2 separate regions of the Homo sapiens genome follow, and region 1 is linked to region 2. The links come from fine-mapping of genetic effects on gene expression. A gene starts in region 2. The other region holds a variant in brackets. All regions are shown on one strand. Distances are between the middles of the regions.

What was found. PIP is the estimated chance that this variant, and not a neighbour inherited with it, causes the effect.
Region 1: its variant is the best candidate, but not a certain one, in a credible set for the expression of SEC11A in monocytes after Pam3CSK4 (Quach 2016, PIP 0.87).

The regions. Positions count from the first base shown.
Region 1 is chr15:84,684,663-84,692,662 of GRCh38, reverse strand. SEC11A (SEC11 homolog A, signal peptidase complex subunit) reads left to right here. Exons shown (of 6, transcript NM_014300.4): 2 at 1,019-1,128; 3 at 4,889-5,038. Among named protein-coding and RNA genes, the nearest start is that of SEC11A, 27 kb to the left of the region's middle. RefSeq lists an enhancer at 5,676-6,175. The variant TTG/G (reference allele first, on the strand shown) is at 3,632.
Region 2 is chr15:84,712,676-84,722,528 of GRCh38, reverse strand. It overlaps SEC11A (SEC11 homolog A, signal peptidase complex subunit), which reads left to right and starts at 6,390. Exons shown (of 6, transcript NM_014300.4): 1 at 6,390-6,504. The coding sequence starts at 6,454. RefSeq lists enhancers at 5,042-5,605, 5,727-5,836, 5,857-5,976, 5,606-6,171, 6,647-6,716 and 1 more.

The DNA of each region.
Region 1 (8,000 bases), 29 kb after region 2:
CAGTTAGCTCACATTATTTATCTTATCTGATTTTGTAATATTTTTTGCCTTTTTCCACGTGTTCTGAATTTTCTTTATTTGAAATTGAAATGCCGTCTGGTGTTTTATCTGTTTATTCAAGTCACAGAATTTTAGAGTTTGTTGGAGTACTGGAAATTTAGTAAGAAGGCTGACCTTCAAGTCTTGACTATGTGACTGATAAGCTTAGGACTTGGTGAAGTCTCCTCTTTTCGAGACAGTTTCCTTAACTGTAAAATGAGAAGGTAGAGTTAAATGTCATTAACTATTCCCATGATTATCAAGGGATAAGTATAGTAGAAAAGTAATAGAGGGCCGGGTGTGGTGACTCACGCCTGTAATCCCAGCCCTTTAGGAGGTGGAGGTGGGCAGATCATTTGAGGTCAAGAGTTCGAGACCAGCCTGATCAACATGGTGAAACCCAGTTTCTACTAAAAATTCAAAAAAATTAGCTGGGCGTGATGACGCATGCCTGTAGTCCCAGCGACTCGGGAGGCTGAGGCAGGAGAATTTCTTGAACCCAGGAGACAGAGGTTGCAGTGAGCTGAGATGGCACCACTGTACTCCAGCCTGGGTGACTGAGCAAGAGCGAGGCTCCATCTCAAAAAAAAAAAAAAAAAGAAAAAGAAAAAGTAATAGAGGAGTTCAGAAGCAGAGACAGATTACTCTTGGCTGGTAAGTAGCATGAGTGATAAATTTAAGCTGAATGATTATGGAGCCCAAATGAAATAACTTGTGTGAAATGTTCTTAAAATAATATGGTGTTATATAAATGTAACTGATGTTTTACCAAACAAAATGGAGCAGGGTGCTTTGGGTGAAAGAAGGGGGGCCTGTTTTGATCTGCTGATGGCATAATTATTATAATGTATTAAAGAATGTCTCAGAACTGTAGTTGTCCTAATAGTACTGCTTGAAACTTTCAAATTGTTACTGCTTTCAGTTGCTTTCCGAAGTGGGGATAATGGTGGATCTGATCTCTTCTGTTTTGTTCTTGCAGCTCTATTATCAAGTCCTAAATTTTGGAATGATTGTCTCATCGGCACTAATGATCTGGAAGGGGTTAATGGTAATAACTGGAAGTGAAAGTCCGATTGTAGTGGTGCTCAGGTAACAGTTTTTCCTTTCAAGGCATGGAATTGCATGGCATTACTTGGGAGAAAAATTGAGATATGAAATAACTGGCATATCATTCTCTTAGAAACTACTCTTTTCCAGAAAAGGGCCTGGAAGAAAATTAGTCACTACTTATCAGTTGTAAGAAATTCTCAGGCTGGGCACGGTGGCTTATGCCTGTAATCCCACCAATTTGGGATGCTGAGGCCGGTGGATTACTTGAGCTATGGAATTTGAGACTAGCTTGGGCAACGTGGTGAAACCCTGTCTCCACAAAAAATACAAAAATTAGCGGGTGTGGTGGCATGGACCTGTAGTCTCAGCTACTCGGGAGGCTGAGGTGGGAGGATCACCTAAGCCCTAGAGGTTGAGGCCTGCAGTGAGTTGTGATTGCACCACTGCACTTCAGCCTGGGTGACAGAGCGAGACCCTGTCTCCAAAAAAAAAAAAAAAAAGAGAGAAAAGAAATTCTTACTTTGTTAGGCATTTCCATTCAGAACTCCAAAGGGCTCATGACCTTTCTACAAAAAAGTTACCATGTTAAGGTTTGTTTTTGTCACATCCCTTAATAAAGTGTCTCGTTGTACTTTATTTTCCTGAAATTCTTCTGTCTTTTTATATTCCTCATTTTGATACACCAGGCCTGATATTTAGTTGTTAGTTCATTAGATGTTATAGTACTTCCACAAATTAAGAGTTTTTCTGTAGCATGTTCTCAATGTCAGGATAGAATCATCACTAATTATTTCCAAGTTTCCTGCTGACCTTTAAATATCACTTCTAAACTAGACTCCAGGAATTTTGAAGGCATTAATACCATCTCTTATGGTGACAAATAGTACTGAATTTTTTTTCTCCACTCTGCTTCCTTCCCTATCTTTGCACTCATACTCTTAGTGAATATTTTTTTTAAAGATGGGGTCTCGCTCTGTTACCCAGGATAGAGTGCAGTGGCGCCGTCATAACTCACTGCAGACTCCACCTACCGGTCTCAAGGGATCCTTCCATTTTAGCCTCCTGAGCAGGTGGGACTGCAGGCCTGCCCCACCATGCCTGGTTAATTTTTTAATTTTTTTGTAGAGACGGTGTATTAGTCCATTTTCATGCTGCTGATAAAGACGTACCCAAGACTGGGCAATTTACGAAAGAAAGAGGTTTACTGGACTTACAGTTCCACGTGACTGGGGAGGCCCCACAATCATGGCAGAAGGTGAAAGGCAGGTCTCACATGGCGGCAGACAAGAGAAGAGAGCTTTTGCAGGGGAACTCCCCTTTTTAAAACCATCAGATCTCGTGAGACTTATTCACTGTTACTAGAACAGCACAGGAAAAACCTGCCCCATGATTCAGTTACCTCCTGCTGGGTCCCTCCCAAAACACGTGGGAATTCAAGATGAGATTTGGGTGGGGACACAGCCAAACCGTAGCAGATAGGATCTCACTGTGTTGCCCAGTCTGGTCTTGAACTCCTGGGTTCAAGGATCCTCCCACCTTGGCCTCCCAACATGCTGGGATTACAAGCATGAGCCACCATGCGCAACCACTCTTAGTGATTTTAAAACCTAATTTAGTAACTCATTTTTAGAGAATTACCACTTGGTTGTTTGACTGAAACATTATAGGCTGGGTGTGGTGGCTCACACCTGTAATCCCAGCACTTTGGAAGGCCAAGGCGGGCAGATCACTTGAGGCTAGGAGTTCGAGACCAGCCTGGCCAGCATGTTGAAACCCCATCTCTACTAAAAATACAAAAATTAGCTGGGCGTGGTGGCAGGCGCCTGTAGTCCCAGCTACTCAGGAGGCTGAGGCAGGAGAATTGCTTGAACCTAGGAGGCGGAGATTGCAGTGAGCGGAGATCGCTCCATTGCACTCCAGCCTGGGTGACAATTGAAATTTTGTCTCAAAAAAAAAAAAAAAAAGAAAGAAAAGAAACATTACAGTTTTGTCATATTTTGGGCTTAATTTTGTAAGCCCAGATCTTTTCTGGAGATAATGGAGTGCATATTTAAAATAAATGGAATTATTAATATTATCTAGAATCTAAATAATAGTGCATTAACATTATCTAGAACCTAAGTAATAGTACTTAGATTACTCTTTTTTAACCAAATTATCGAGATATGATTGACATACAAAAAGCTGTACATATTTAATGTATACAACTTGATCAATTTGCAGGTAAGTATATTCCTGTGAAACCATCATCACAATCAAGCAAGTGAATATATTCATCACTTTCAAAAGTTTCTTCCCTTTCTATTTTTTTGTGATAAGAACATTTAACACAGGGCCTCCCTCCATCGCCCAGACTGGAGTGTGCCATCACACTTGGCTAATTTTTTTTTTACAGAGACTGAGTCTTGAACTCCTGATCTCAAGTGATCCTCCCCCCTCAACCTCCCAAGTGCTGGGATGATAGGCTTGAACCATCGTGCCTGGCCCCCAGTTTCTTTTCTTTTCTTTTTTTTCTTTTCTTCTTCTTCTTTTTTTTTTTTTT[TTG/G]AGACAGAGTCTCACTGTATTGCCCAGGCTGGAGTGCAATGGCGCAATCTCAGCCCATTCAACCTCCACCTCCTGGGTTCAAGTGATTCTTCTGCGTCAGCCTCCTGAGTAGCTGGGATTACAGGCGTGCGCCACCATGCTCACCTAATTTTTGTATTTTTAGTTGAGACTGGGTTTCACTGTGTTGATCAGGCTGGTCACGAACTCCTGACCTCAGGTCACCTGCCCACCTCGGCCTCCCGAAGTGCTGGAATTACAGGTGTGAGCCACCGCACCTGGCTGAGATTTTTTAAAAGTCCCTCAGGTCATTCCAATGTGCAGCAAAATTTGAGACCCACTGCCATATCCCTTTACATAGAGGGAAGAGAGTCTTTAAACAAAAGTGTTTGGAGTTTGTACTTATTCCTGCGTTGAACTTTATTTCTTGTCTTTCTATTCTTACTTAAGCTGTTGTTATAGAAAACCGGAGCTTGAGTTTCTGAAAAAGACTGATGGGCTACTTCTTTATAGATAAAAAGGGGTTCATAAATTAGTGCAAATATCTTAGGACCTTTTCAGCACTTGGCGTAGGATGGAAGAGGTAAGAGGTAAGAAGATACTCTGTAGAAGTTAGTCTTACTTGTTACCATGGAATTGAATCTTTTCCTGGCTTCGGAAATTCTTAGGCAAAAATCTCTGCTTATTCCTTGGTTTTCTTTTTTTCTCTTTTTAAAATAAGTAAATTGATAACACAAGCTTTATCTCTGTAGCTGGCTGTTCCTTGACTTGATGAGCCATTTTTCCTTCTAAATGAGTTGAACATATAAGGTCATCTTGGCTGTTATCTTTATAAATGGCAGAGGAAGATGATCCAGTTCTCATTTGCATATCTGAATATGTTTAGTGTTTTCAGATGAAGTGAGAATAAGGGCATTGTTTTAAAGTTCATTCTTTTATATTCTGTTTGTCATTTGAAATTTTAAAAGGTTAAGGAATTAGTAACACTGACCTTTTCAAGATTTAAGCTTCTTTGACTAGTGATACTTGAAATGGAACTAGTTAGTGAAGGTTAATAACTAAAAAAAAATCCTTTGGCGTAACTTTTTAGTCTGAGGAAACCATATTTTGAGAACAATACACATTTCTGTTGATATAGTTGTTAGGGTATTGAGTATACTCCCAAAGTGATATTTTTTATTTTGTTGAATATCTAATTTTGAAAGTACATTTAATCTCATACTTTCTTTTTGCTGTTATATTCTTCTTTCCCTTCCAGTGGCAGCATGGAACCTGCATTTCATAGAGGAGATCTTCTCTTTCTAACAAATCGAGTTGAAGATCCCATACGAGTGGGAGAAATTGTTGTTTTTAGGATAGAAGGAAGAGAGATTCCTATAGTTCACCGAGTCTTGAAGATTCATGAAAAGTATGTGCAAAGTATAGCATCTTTGTTTCTAAGTGCTTTTGTTTAAGTGTTTGTGGTATTTAGTTTTGATAGCCTAAAGATTGTAAAACAGTGAGGAACCTCTAGGCCTTCTTCCAGTCCATTTTTATGAATGCTGGAAAGTTTAGTGAACATTTTGAAAACTGTAAATAATTATTTATTAGTTCATTTCTTTCCCTGAAGGTTTTTCCAGAGGTTTTTCTTTGTTCCCTTTTACTTCCCAACCTGTCAGTGACTCTGTATATAATTCCAAAAAACTATGACATAAAGATAGATCCTAAATAGAATCTTCTGGTTGGGCACAGTGGCTCACGCCTACAATCCCAGTACTTTGGGAGGCCAAGGTGAGAGAATGGCTTGAGCTCAGGAGTTTGAGGTCAGCCTGGGCAACATGGTGAGACTCCTTCTCTATTAAAACAAAACAAAACCAAAAAAGGCCAGGCATGGTAGCTCACGCCTGTAATCCCAGCACTTTGGGAGGCCGAGGTGGGTGGATCACCTGAGGTCAGGAGTTCGAGACCAGCCTGGCTAACATCGTGAAACCCTGTCTCTACTAAAATATAAAAATTAGCCAGGTGTGGTGGTGGGCGCCTGTAATCCCAGCTACTTGGGAGGCTGAGGCAGGCGAATTGCATGAACCTGGGAGGTGGAGGTTGCAGTGAGCCAAGATTGCAGCACTGCACTCCAGCCTGGGCGACAGAGCCAGACTCCATCTCAAAAAATAAATAAATAAATAAATAATTAGCTGGGCGTAGTGGCATGTGCCTGTAGTCCCAGCTAATTGGAGGACTGAGGTGGGAGGATTGTGTGAGCCCAGGAGTTTGAGGCTGCAGTGAGTCGTGTTTGTGCCACTGCACTCCAGCCTGGGCGACCGAGTGAGACCCTGTCTCAAAAAAGAAAAAAGAAAGAAATGAAAGAAAAGGGAGGCATCCTGTATGACACACAGACGAGAAGTGAAAGAGTAGGCATGATTTCGGTTCTTTTTTTGTTTGTTTTTTGAGACAGTTTCCCTCTGTTACCCAGGCTGGAATGCAGTGGCGCTATCTCGGCTCACTGCAACCTCCACCTCCCAGGCTCAAGTGATTCTCATGCCTCAGCCTTCTGAGTAGCTGGGATTACAGGCATGTGCCACCATGCCCAGCTAATTTTTGTATTTTTAGTAGAGACAGGGTTTCACCTTGTTGGCTAGGCTAGTCTCGAACCCCTGGCCTCAAGTGATCCGCCTGCCTTGGCCTCCCAAAGTGCTGGGATTACAGGCATGAGCCATTGCACCTGGTGGATTTCAGTTCTTGAAAGAAGAGGAAACTGTCAACCATTGCTTTTTGAAATTCCTATAAACATTCTAGTTTAGAAGAGTTCTTTCTTCATTGGTGAAATAAAGATATGACTGCTTATTTTTTTTTAATAAAATCAGATATCAGTATGTATGTGGAAATACTATAATTTAAAGTGACATTATATTATTGACTGGGAAGGAATAACTTAAATTTTTAGAAATTGTTTGGGGCCGGGAGCAGTGGCTCATGCCTGTAATCTCAGCACTTTGGGAGGCTGAGGCGGGCAGATCACCTGAGCTCAGGAGTTCAAGACCAGCCTTGCCAACATGGCAAAACCCATCTCTACTAGAAGTATAAAAATTAGCCAGGCGTGGTGGTGGGCACCTGTAACTCCAGCTACTCAGGAGGCTAAGGCAGGAGAATCACTTGAACCTGGGAGGCTAAGGTTGCAGTGAGCTGAGATCACGCCACTGCATTCCAGCCTGAATGACAGAGTGAGACTCCATCTCAAAAAAAAAAAAAAAAAAAAAAAGAAATTTATTTTGGAATTACAGAGGTTTATTCAGCATGGATAGTGTTTTCCAGATTCTGAAAGTGGATTTGTGTTGTTCATTCTCAGCAATGCCTGTTGTGAACAAAGCTGAACCAACTTTCCCCTAAATATATCAGAGAGAATCAAATTAAGCTCAGGCCTTGTTTAAGCTGGAGGAAAATTTCTCCATTTTAATTTGTGATCCTTTGAAATTGAGTGAGTTTGGCTGGGTGTGGTGACTCATGCCTGTAATCCCAGCCCTTTGGGAGGCTGAGGCGGGTGGAGTGCTTGAGCGCAGGAGCTCTAGACCAGCCTGGGCGTCTAGACCAGATGGTGAAACCCTGTCTCTACAAATAAAAAAAAAAAAAAAAAATGAGTCAGGCACGGTGGTGTGCACTTGTAGTCCCAGCTGCTCAAGAGGCTGAGGTAGGAGGATCACTTGAGCCCAGGAGGTTGAGGCTGCAGTGAGCCGAGATCATGCCACTTTATTCTATCCTGGGCAACAGAGTGAGACTGTATCTCAAAAAAAGAAAAAAGAAAAGAAAAAGAAATTGAATGAGTCATAGACTTAAGTTTAAAACTGCTTCTGGGCAGATTCATAGACAGAGAATATATTAATTGGAAAATCCTTAAATTTTTAAAATAATTTTGTACAGAATTCTGATGATTTTAAATATGGTACTTGTAATCTGGGGTTTTTGGTGATTTATTTCAGACTCTTGAGATACCTTCAACTTGCAGGCCTGTGTAGATAACAGACCCTGTTAATATTCAGAAATTTTCAATTTTCTTTTTTTCTTTTGGGGAGACTGAAATATCTGGTCAGGATTACCATTTGGGTTTTTTTTGTTTTTTGTTTTTTCTTTTGAGACGGAGTCTCGCTCTTTCGCCCAGGCTGGAGTTCATGGTGCGAGTTTGGCTCACTGCAACCTCTGCCTTCTGGGTTCAAGCAATTCTCCTGCCTCAGCCTCCCAAGTAGCTGGGACTACAGGCGCCTGCCACCACGCCCAGCTAATTTTTGTATTTTTAGTAGAGGCAGGGTTTCACCATGTTGGCCAGACTGGTCTTGAACTCCGGACCTCAAATGATTCACCCACCTCTGCCTCCCAAAGTGCAGAGATTACAGGCATGACCC
Region 2 (9,853 bases):
TAAAGTAACTCATCTAGAGTCACACAGTAAGGGTTAGAGCAGTTTGGCTCCAGAGATCACTTCTTTAATTCCTATGACATATGCTGGAGTATAGATGGTTGAGTATGTCTGGACTATAGGGTAACAAGTTGGCAAGGAACGTCAGATATCAAGTTGATGAAAGAGGCAGTAGCCTGCTGGGAGCAGTGGCTCACGCCTGTAATCCCCAGCACTCTGAGAGGCCAAGACAGGTGGATCACCTGAGGTCAGGGGTTTGAGACCAGCCTTACCAACATGGTGAAACCCTATCTCTACTAAAAATACAAAAATTAGCTAGGTATGGTGGTGCACATCTGTAATCCCAGCCACTCGGGAGGCTGAGGCACAAGAATCGCTTGAACCTGGGAGGGGGAGGTTGCAGTGAGCTGAGATCATGCCACTGCCCTCCAGCCTGGGTGACTAAAAGAAAAGGAGAGGAGGCAGTAGCCAAATCACACAGATTCAGCGTGAGTACCTTGAAGAGAGGCTCTTAGGAGACTTTAGGTAAATATTTTAAAGTACTTGAATGTATATATAAATGATTGCTAATGAATGTGATTGTATTCTGGATATCCATATCCAGATTTACACAAGCCACATTTCCAGTGGTGATTAACTGCCTCAACAGATTCCTATAGGATCCCTTAACCTATCAAGAGGGATATCAAGAGCCAATTCCCTGTCATTAACTATGAGATCCAAGAGCTCAAAAGGCAACTTTTCCAAGAGGGAGGAGGTGCAGGCCCAGTTAGAGGGAAGAGGCTAAGGGTGTCCCCACTCTTGATCCTCTACCCACACGACATCCACATTCACAACAGGGATCTCTCCTCTCTAAGGACTCACAAAACAAACATCAAGGCCCCTTTCTTCTTCAGCTAAAGCAGTATAGCCAAGCAGGAAATTGATGGGTCCTCCCCAACCCCCATCACATATACGCACATACCAACCCAGAAGGCTGGTGCTTCCCTCTTACAGCTGTCCCTGCAGCTGTCTGGGACTTTTTAAAGAGAGCTTTCCAAAAATCTTCCAGGGAGACTTGGGTGACTCCAGTAATCTCTCTGCACAGAAGGTGCCTTTGATTTTTGAGAATGACATTTCTGTCATCCCATCCTATACAGAGCTGCTACATCTTTTAAAACCTTGGTCTCTGATGTCCATAGCCACTGGGTTGGTAGGCAGAAAGTTCCCATCTCTGCATCCACCTGACCTGACCTCAGGCAGCCCCCAGCAAACTGAGATAGATCCTTGTGGGAGATGGCACCAGGGAAGAGCCACATCTCCAGTGTGGCCTATGCACCAGCTTGCTGTGATATGCCTGGGCCACTTCCTTTTCTGGCAGGGTCATAGAGGACCTTCTGCTTCTACCCACCACTTCCTACATTGAGAAGGTGAAGGAGAAACTGGTAAGATTATAATTATTTTTAATAGAGTTTTAAAAACATGAAGTCAGGCCGGGTGCGGTGGCTCATGCTTGTAATTCCAGCACTTTGGGAGGCCGAGGGGGGCAGATCACCTGATGTTGGGAGTTCGAGACCAGCCTGACTAACATGCCGAAACCCTGTCTCTACTAAAAATAAAAAATAAATAAATAAATAAATAAATAGCCAGGCGTGGTTGCGCATGCCTGTAATTCCAGCTACTTGGGAGGCTGAGGCAGGAGAATCACTTGAGCCCAGGAGGCAGAAGTTGCGGTGAGCCGAGATTACACCATTGCACTCCACTCCAGCCTGGGCAACAATAACAACAACAAAAAAACCCACATGACGTCTACTTTGCTTCTGCTGGTAGAGACCCTTGATTTGTACAGAAGTGGTTAACCAGGGCTCAACCATAATGACAGACCTTCCTAGCCTAGAATTTGTGTATCAGTTTGAACCCACTTCTTGTTTTGAATAATTATTAAATTCTTTGTCCACTTACCATTTGTCATCCATTGTGACAACAGCTTTATTTATTTATTTATTTATTTTATTTATTTTTTGAGATAGAGTCTCTCTTTGTCGCCAAGACTGGAGTGCAGTAGCACAATTATGGCTCACTAAGGGATCAACTTTCAGGACTCAATCGATCCTCCTGACTCAGCCTCCCGAGTAGCTGGAACTACAGGCATGTGTCCCCACACCTGGCTAATTTTTAAAATTTTCTGTAGAGATGAGGCTTCCACTATGTTGCCCAGGTTGGTCTCGAACTCCTGGGCTCGAGTAATCTGCCCACCTTGGCCTCTCAAAGTATTGGGATTACAGGCGTCAGCCACCATGCCCAGCCCCCAACAGCCTTATTTACATGTACTATTTTGTTAAATCCTCAAATGACATAAATTCTTTTCTATTCCTACTTTACACACCAGAAAACTAGGGATTAAAAAATTGCTAACTGAGTTGGGCATGGTGGCATGCGCCTGCAGTCCCAGCTACTTGGGAGGCTGAGTGGGAGGATTGCTTGAGCAATCTAGGCTTCAGTGGTCTAGGCTTCAGTGAAGGGTGATCACATCACTGCACTCCAGCCTGGGTGACAGAGTGAGACTCTGTCTGTAGAAACATTAAATTAAATAAATTTTTTTGGAAAAAGAGTTAACTAATTGGTCCAAGATCAAACAGCTGGCAATTGATCTGTGATTCAAAGCCAAGTGGGTCTAACTTAACTTCTATACTAAGATGCTTCCTTCAGGGGGGCCAGCAGGCTCTCTGTAAAGGAAAATGCCAGACATAACACTGTGATTGACAGGGCCCAAAAGACTTATGTGTCAGAAAGATTGCCATCCCAGTCGGCAGAGAAAATAGCATGTCAGAGTCCCACATTTGGAAAATTGAATTCCTTAGGCTTTATATCAAGTCTGGGATCACCTGTCCTAAATATCTGAATTATTTTCATAAGAGACACCGAGCAGTATAAGAAACCTCATTAAGCCTTTGCAGATCCTCCTAGTTTATATCACTCTCCCCTGGTCCCGTTCCTTTCTCATGCATTCTTTTTTTTTTTAAGACAGAGTCTCACTCCATTGCTCAGGCTGGAATGCAATGGTGTGATCTTGGCTCACTGCAACCTCTGCCCCCCGGGATCAAGCGATTTTCCTGCCTCAGCCTCCGAGTAGCTGGGACTACAGGCACCTGCCACCATGCCTGGCTAAGTTTTGTATTTTTAGTAGAGACGGGGTTTCACCATGTTGGCCAGGCTGGTCTCAAACTCGACCTCAGGTGATCCATCTGCCTCGGCCTCCCAAAGTGCTGGGATTACAGACATGAGCCACCGTGCCTGGCCTAATTTTTAGTTTTAGTAGAGCAGAGGTCTCACTTTGTTGTCCAGGCTGGTCTTGAACTCCTGGGCCAAAGGGATCTTTCCCCCTTGGCTTCTCAAAGTGCTGGGATTACAGGCGTGAGCCACCGTGCCTGGCCTGACACCCTTTTTAAGCTCCCCACAAGCCTCCCCAACTGAACTGACTTTTGCCACATCTGAAACTCCACAGGACTTTACGCCTCTCTTAGGGCTCTTTTCTACACATTACAAGATTGATACTCATTTAAATAGTTGCTGGCGCTCACTTTTAGATTTGAATTCAACATTAATAGGCATAGGCCAAGGGTTCTACTAGCGAGAATTTAGACTAGAACCCATATTTAACATTTATTAACAAATACTTATTGAGTGTCTGCTACATGTCTGGTACTCTTATGGAAGCTGGAGATAAAGGGGTGGACAAGACAATGTCCCTGTCCTCATGGAGTTCACATGTATTTTCTTCCACAAGTCTTCCTAAATTGGATAAATTAGGAATTTTTTTTCAACTCAATAAGTGTGGGGTGCCTAGAGGCAGCAGTTTTTGGAGGTGACAAAAATACACACACACACACACACACACTTTTAAATTCAACAAGTATTTATTGGGTATAACATGTGCTAGGCTATGTGTTCACCACTAGGAATTTAACAGTGAGCCAGACACCAGTGGTTTCTTTTTCTTTCTCATAATAGCTTTATTGTGATATAATACACATACCATACAATTCACCAGTGTAAAGTGTACAATTTAATGGTTTTGAGTATATTCACATAGTTGTAGAACTAGCATCCCCTAAAAGAAACTCCATACCCATTAGCAGCCACTCCCCATTTTCCCCAACTCTCCCAGCCCTAGGCAACCACTGATTTCCATCTCTGTGGATTTGTCTATTCTAGATATTTCACCTAAATGGAATCATGCAATGCTTTGTCTTTTGTGACTGGATCCTTTCACTAAATCTGTTTCAAGGGTCATTCATGTTGTAGTATTTCCTTTTGTTGCCAGATTAATATTCCATTGTACCAGCGGAATTATTAGTACATTATTCCAATATACCACATTTATTTATCCCTTCATTAGTTGATAAACATTTCAGTTATTTCCACTTTTTAGCTATTATGAATAATGCTGCTGTGAACATTCATGTACAAGTTTTTGTGTGGACAAACGTTTTCAATTTTCTTGGGTATATACCTAGCAGTGGAATTGCTGGTTAATATGGTGATTCCATCTTTAACCTTTTTTTGTTTGTGTGTTTTGAGATAGGGTCTCACTTTGTCGCCCAGGTTGGAGTGCAGTGGCACGATCTCGGCTCACCGCAAACTCTGCCTCCTGGGTTCAAGCGATTCTCCTGCCTCAGCCTCCCCAGTAGCTGAGATTACAGGTGCCCACCACCACACCCGCCTAATTTTTGTATCTTTAGTAAAGACGGGTTTTCACCATGTTGGCCAGGCTAGTCTGGAACTCCTGACCTCAGGTGATCTGCCTGCCTCAGCCTCCCAAAGTGCTGGGATTACAGGCATGAGCCACTGCAGACGGCACATCTTTAACCTTTTGAGCAACTGCAGCTATTTCCCAAAGTGGCTGCACCATTTTACATTCCCACCAGCAGTATATGAGGGTTCCAATTTCTTCACATCTTCCCCTAAACTTATTATTATTTGTCTTTTTTATTACAGCCATCCTCCAATAAATTCAAGTTTTTATTTTGGAATGACTTTCCATTTAAAGAATTTCGAGGATACTACAAAGAGTTCCAGTATATCCTTCATTCATCTTTCCCTAATGGGAGAGAAGGATTATTTTGAAAAAAAAAAAAAAAAAAAAAAAAGAGAGAGAAATGATACCAAGTAATCCAGCTTTAGTCTTTGTTGACTGAAGTGCGTATTAGGAGCTTTGGCCAGTCAAAGCAAAAGGTAGCGAAAAGATAGTCACTTCAAGGTGTCCAAGTTAAGAAAACCAGGAGGTAGAATTCAAGGAGACCATGTCAAATCCTGTCAGCAAAGTCAAGGTCAGAAAGGAAGCCACTTCCTAACGACCCACACCACTGGTGGTCTCATCACGCTGTTGCACCATTTGGATGTTTTCTAATTCTCCCGGGCTGTTTTCTCTCCAATTGGACTGTAAACTCCTGGCAGGCTCAGGCAGTGCTCGGAAGGTCTCTCACACGGTCCAACCTTACGCGAAAAGCACTTATTGAAAGCACCTCGATGGCCGGGCGCGGTGGCTCACGACTGTAATCCCAGCACTTTGGGACGCCAAGGCGGGCGGATCACCTGAGCTCAAGAGTTCGAGACCAGCCTGGCCAACATAGTGAAACCCTGTCTCTACTAAAAATACAAAAATTAGCCAGGTTTGGTGGCGCGCGCCTGTAGTCCCAGCTACTTGGGAGCCTGAGGCAGGAGAATCGCCTGAACCCGCGAGGCGGAGGTTGCAGTGAGCTGAGATTGCGCCACTGCACTCCAGCCTGGGCGACACAGTGAGAAAGAAAGGAAAGAGAGAAAGAGAAAGAAAAAGAGAAAGAGACAGACAGACAGAAAGTAAGCAAGCAAGCAAGCAAGCACCTCAACAGAGACAGAGACGTAAAGAAAGAGAGACAGAGACAGAAAGAAAGAAAGCACCTCCTCAGCTTCCCATAGCGCAGGAGACTTGCTCGACCAGAGAACCTACGGTCAGACGACACATCCACTGCCACACCCATACCCAAGCCGGGACGCGGAACCGCTTCTACCCGCCCACACCGGAGAGGTTGCTCGCGATTGGCCGGGCGGGCACAGAGGCCCGCCTTCCGAAGGTGGCAGAGCAGCCTCCCCAACTAAGCCTGGGTCGCCGCCTCGGTGAAGGGCCGCGGGGCCGAGCGCGGGAAGTGGCGTCCAGTCGGTTTTTGGCAGGCGAGAGCCAGAGCGTGAGAACCCTCCCACGGCGAGGCCAAGCCCTGAGACTGGACTAGCAAGGTCGTGAGTCTCTCTGTCAGCTCTCCGCAGCGAAGGGGCGCGGGGGGCGGGGACCGTGCCCGACCGTGCCAGCTCCCGCCCCGGAAGCGGAAGTGCAAGCACTGCGGGGTCCTGTCCAGTGTGAGCCCGACCCGAGCTCCAGTAGTTCCGCCCGCTGGTCATCGCGCCCTTTCCCCTGCCGGTGTCCTGCTCGCCGTCCCCGCCATGCTGTCTCTAGACTTTTTGGACGATGTGCGGCGGATGAACAAGCGGCAGGTGAGCTTGTCCGTCCTCTTTTTCTCCTGGCTCTTCTTGTCCCTTCGAGGCTGCTGCTGCGGGGCCCGGCGGACCCCAGGGTTCTGGTGTGAGGGTCTGAGCTGGTCTGATACCCGGGTCATTCGCTTTCTTTGGAGACTGTGGCCAGAGGCCGCCTTGTCCGCCTCATTATTTTTAACCCCGAACTGATTCAGGGCCTACCGGGGGCGGGGCGGGAAGCGGTGTCTTCACGTTCCATTCCTCCCACTGAGGCAGGGGAGCAAATGGAAACCGTACGCGCTTGAAGTGGGAGTTGGGGTTGCTTATTGTTTTAGTCATTTTAAGGCGGCGGACTCTTGATTTCTCCAGTCGGAGCGACTCCAGGTGGTTTCGGGAGAGACGAGGTTTAGCCGGTTTCTGGGGCGCTCAGGAAGGCGATTGGAGGCCCCACAAAAACCGTTTTGCTGCTTTCAGCTCCTTGCAACCCTTTAGTAGAGCTGAACCGTAGCGGGCTGCACCGACTTTGACTTGGACCACTCTGGGCTCCGAGTTGGAACAGTTACACTACTTGCCCTTGCGTCCGCTTAGCACTAAGGCGGCAGCCCTCGGAATCTATGGTTTTACAGTCCAATATCAGTGCCACGGGGATCTGGAAATGTAGGTCTCCTGATTTTGTCCTTACACTTTACTTTGATCTTCTAGATCGTATGCCAAATAGTACTGAGAATATTGTTGTAATTATTTAGTCCTTAGAAAAGGTTGTTCTGTTTTATCTTTTGCGCCTAGTGTGTCTGTAGAGCCTAGTTTTGCTGCATCGGACTTTTTTTTTGTTTTAAACAGTATTTTACTGTTATGATTATCCTGATGTCACCATTAAGGATTTTTTTTCCTTGGACTTGCATTTTTTGTACTTATAACTGCCACTTAGGGAAGTAGATACACAACCTTTCCTTACTCCCCTTCAGGCCTTAGCTAGCTCAGTGTCAATTCTGTCAGTCAGAATTGAGCATTCTATAAAAATTGCGCAAACGTTACTTTATGTCTTTATGACAACACTTCAAATTTTTACTTGTATAGTGTTGTCTTTTTTTAATCCATATTTGGATTTCTAGATGCCACAGATATTTCTCTGAGGAAAGTATTTATTTTGAGTCTGATATTTATTGTACTCTATGCTAGGTACAATGAGAGAAATGCAAAGATAGTTAAGAAAGACTCGGCCTTCAAGGAGCCTAAATGTGTAGAAAAGGACTAAGGCAAAACAATAACTTTTTTGAGCTCTTGCCATGTGTGAAGCACTTTATACACCTGTAAGGTAGGTAACGTTGTTCTTATTAAACATGAAGAAAATGAGACTTTGTGAGAAGCAATACAGTATAGAAGTTAAGAATATGGACTCTAAAGCTAGATTTCAGAGGTTTGAAGTAGCTCTGCTACTTACTGGCTGTGTGACTTTGAGCAGATTACTTAACCTGTCTGTGCCTATGTTTACTTTTATTGTTGTAAAAAGATATGCAACATAAAATATTCCATTTCAACCGTTTTTACGTGTATACTTCACTGACATTAGTTGCATTCACTATGTTGTGCAAACGTAGGGTCGCTATGAAGATTAAATGAGTTAATTCATATAAAGCCCTCAGAAGAGTGTCTGGCACATGGTGAGTATTGGCTGTACTGTGGTCGATGTCATTGTTAGAGAGCTTTAGTGATTTGCTTAAGACAGAAGGTAGACTGGGTGCGGTGGCTCACGCCTGTAATCCCAGCACTTTGGGAGGCTGAGGCAGGCGGATCACAATGTCAAGAGATTGAGACCATCCTGGCCAACATGGTGAAACCCCCTCTCTACTAAAAATACAGATACTAGCTGGGCCTGTTGGCGCACGCCTGTAGTTCCAGCTACTCAGGAGGCTGAGGCAGGGGAATCGCCTGGGAGGTGGAGATTGCAGTGAGCTGAGATCGTGCCACCGCACTCCAGCCTGGTGACAGAGTGAGACTCCGTCTCAAAAAAAAAAAAAAAAAAAAAAGAAGGTATATGGCAGGATGTGGATTTGATCTCAGGTCTTACTTTAAAGCCTGAACACTTGGATAAAGAAGGATATGACCTGTTCTAGCAGTGGTAGGAAAATTTTGAGAGGTTCCAGTCAGGGCATTACGAACAGCTTCAAGGAGAAACTAGCATTTAAGTTGGATCTTGAAAGACCTTAATAGCTTCATCTTTAACCTGGGTTGGTTAGCATTCCAATAATCAAAAGGGAAGGAATTCACTCAGCACTTGCAAACCTGCTAGATAGGCTCTAAAGCATAGAGATATATAAGGTACTCTTCCTGCTCTAATAAAATGGACAGGAAGAAAGAACAGAAACATGAAGATACAATGAATAGGCTACTCTGCCCTGTGTTTCTCTAATATGGAGTGATTGTGGTTCAGAATTCATTGCATCTAGGACATTCAGGGTTAGTGGAAGTTTAAATGGTAAAATTATCCTCCCTGGCCTCCCAGAGGTTGTTAGGAATGGATAGGAGGGATTGGATAACATGGGGTGAGGGAGAGTTATGAAATGAGATCTTTATCTGTACATAATATCTAGGAGGAAGAATTGACAATACATGTAGATACTGAGAATCAGACGAAAGAGGGAAACTAGAATTTTGTTTTATTCCTCTAAAAGTTGCTATTATTTGCATAACTTCTCTGCTTATACCTAATTACATATTACATATATGTTAAATGTCTGATTGCTTTGAGTTTTTGTTTTTTTTTTCTTATCAGATCCACAGAGGAATACTTTAGTAAATGAACTCCATCCATTTAAAGTGTACCATTTGATAAGTGTTTTTTTTTTTTTTTTGAGACGGAGTCTCACTCTGTTGCCCAGGCTGGAGTGCAGTAGTGCAATCTTGACTCACTGCAAGCTCCACCTCCCAGGTTCACGCCATTCTCCTGCCTCAGCCTCCCAAGTAGCTGGGACTACAGGCACCCGCCACCACACCCGGCTAATTTTTTGTATTTTTAGTAGAGACAGGGTTTCACCATGGTCTTGATCTCCTGACCTTGTGATCCGCCTGCCTCGGCCTTCCAAAATGCTAGGATTACAGGCGTGAGCCACTGCTCCCGGCCGGCCGATAAGTTTTTATACTTACGTATACTGATCACAATCAAGATATAGAACGTATATATCACCTACAAGACCCGTTCTGTCCCACCTCTAATGTGCTTTTTGTCAGTATAGAGGGGTATGCATTTTATATAAATGGAATCATAGAGTATGTATTCTTTGGAGTTTTAATCAGTTTTTAGGCTGGACGCAGTGGCTCATGCCTGTAATCCAGCACTTTGGGAGGCCGAGCAGGTGGATTGCCTGAGCTC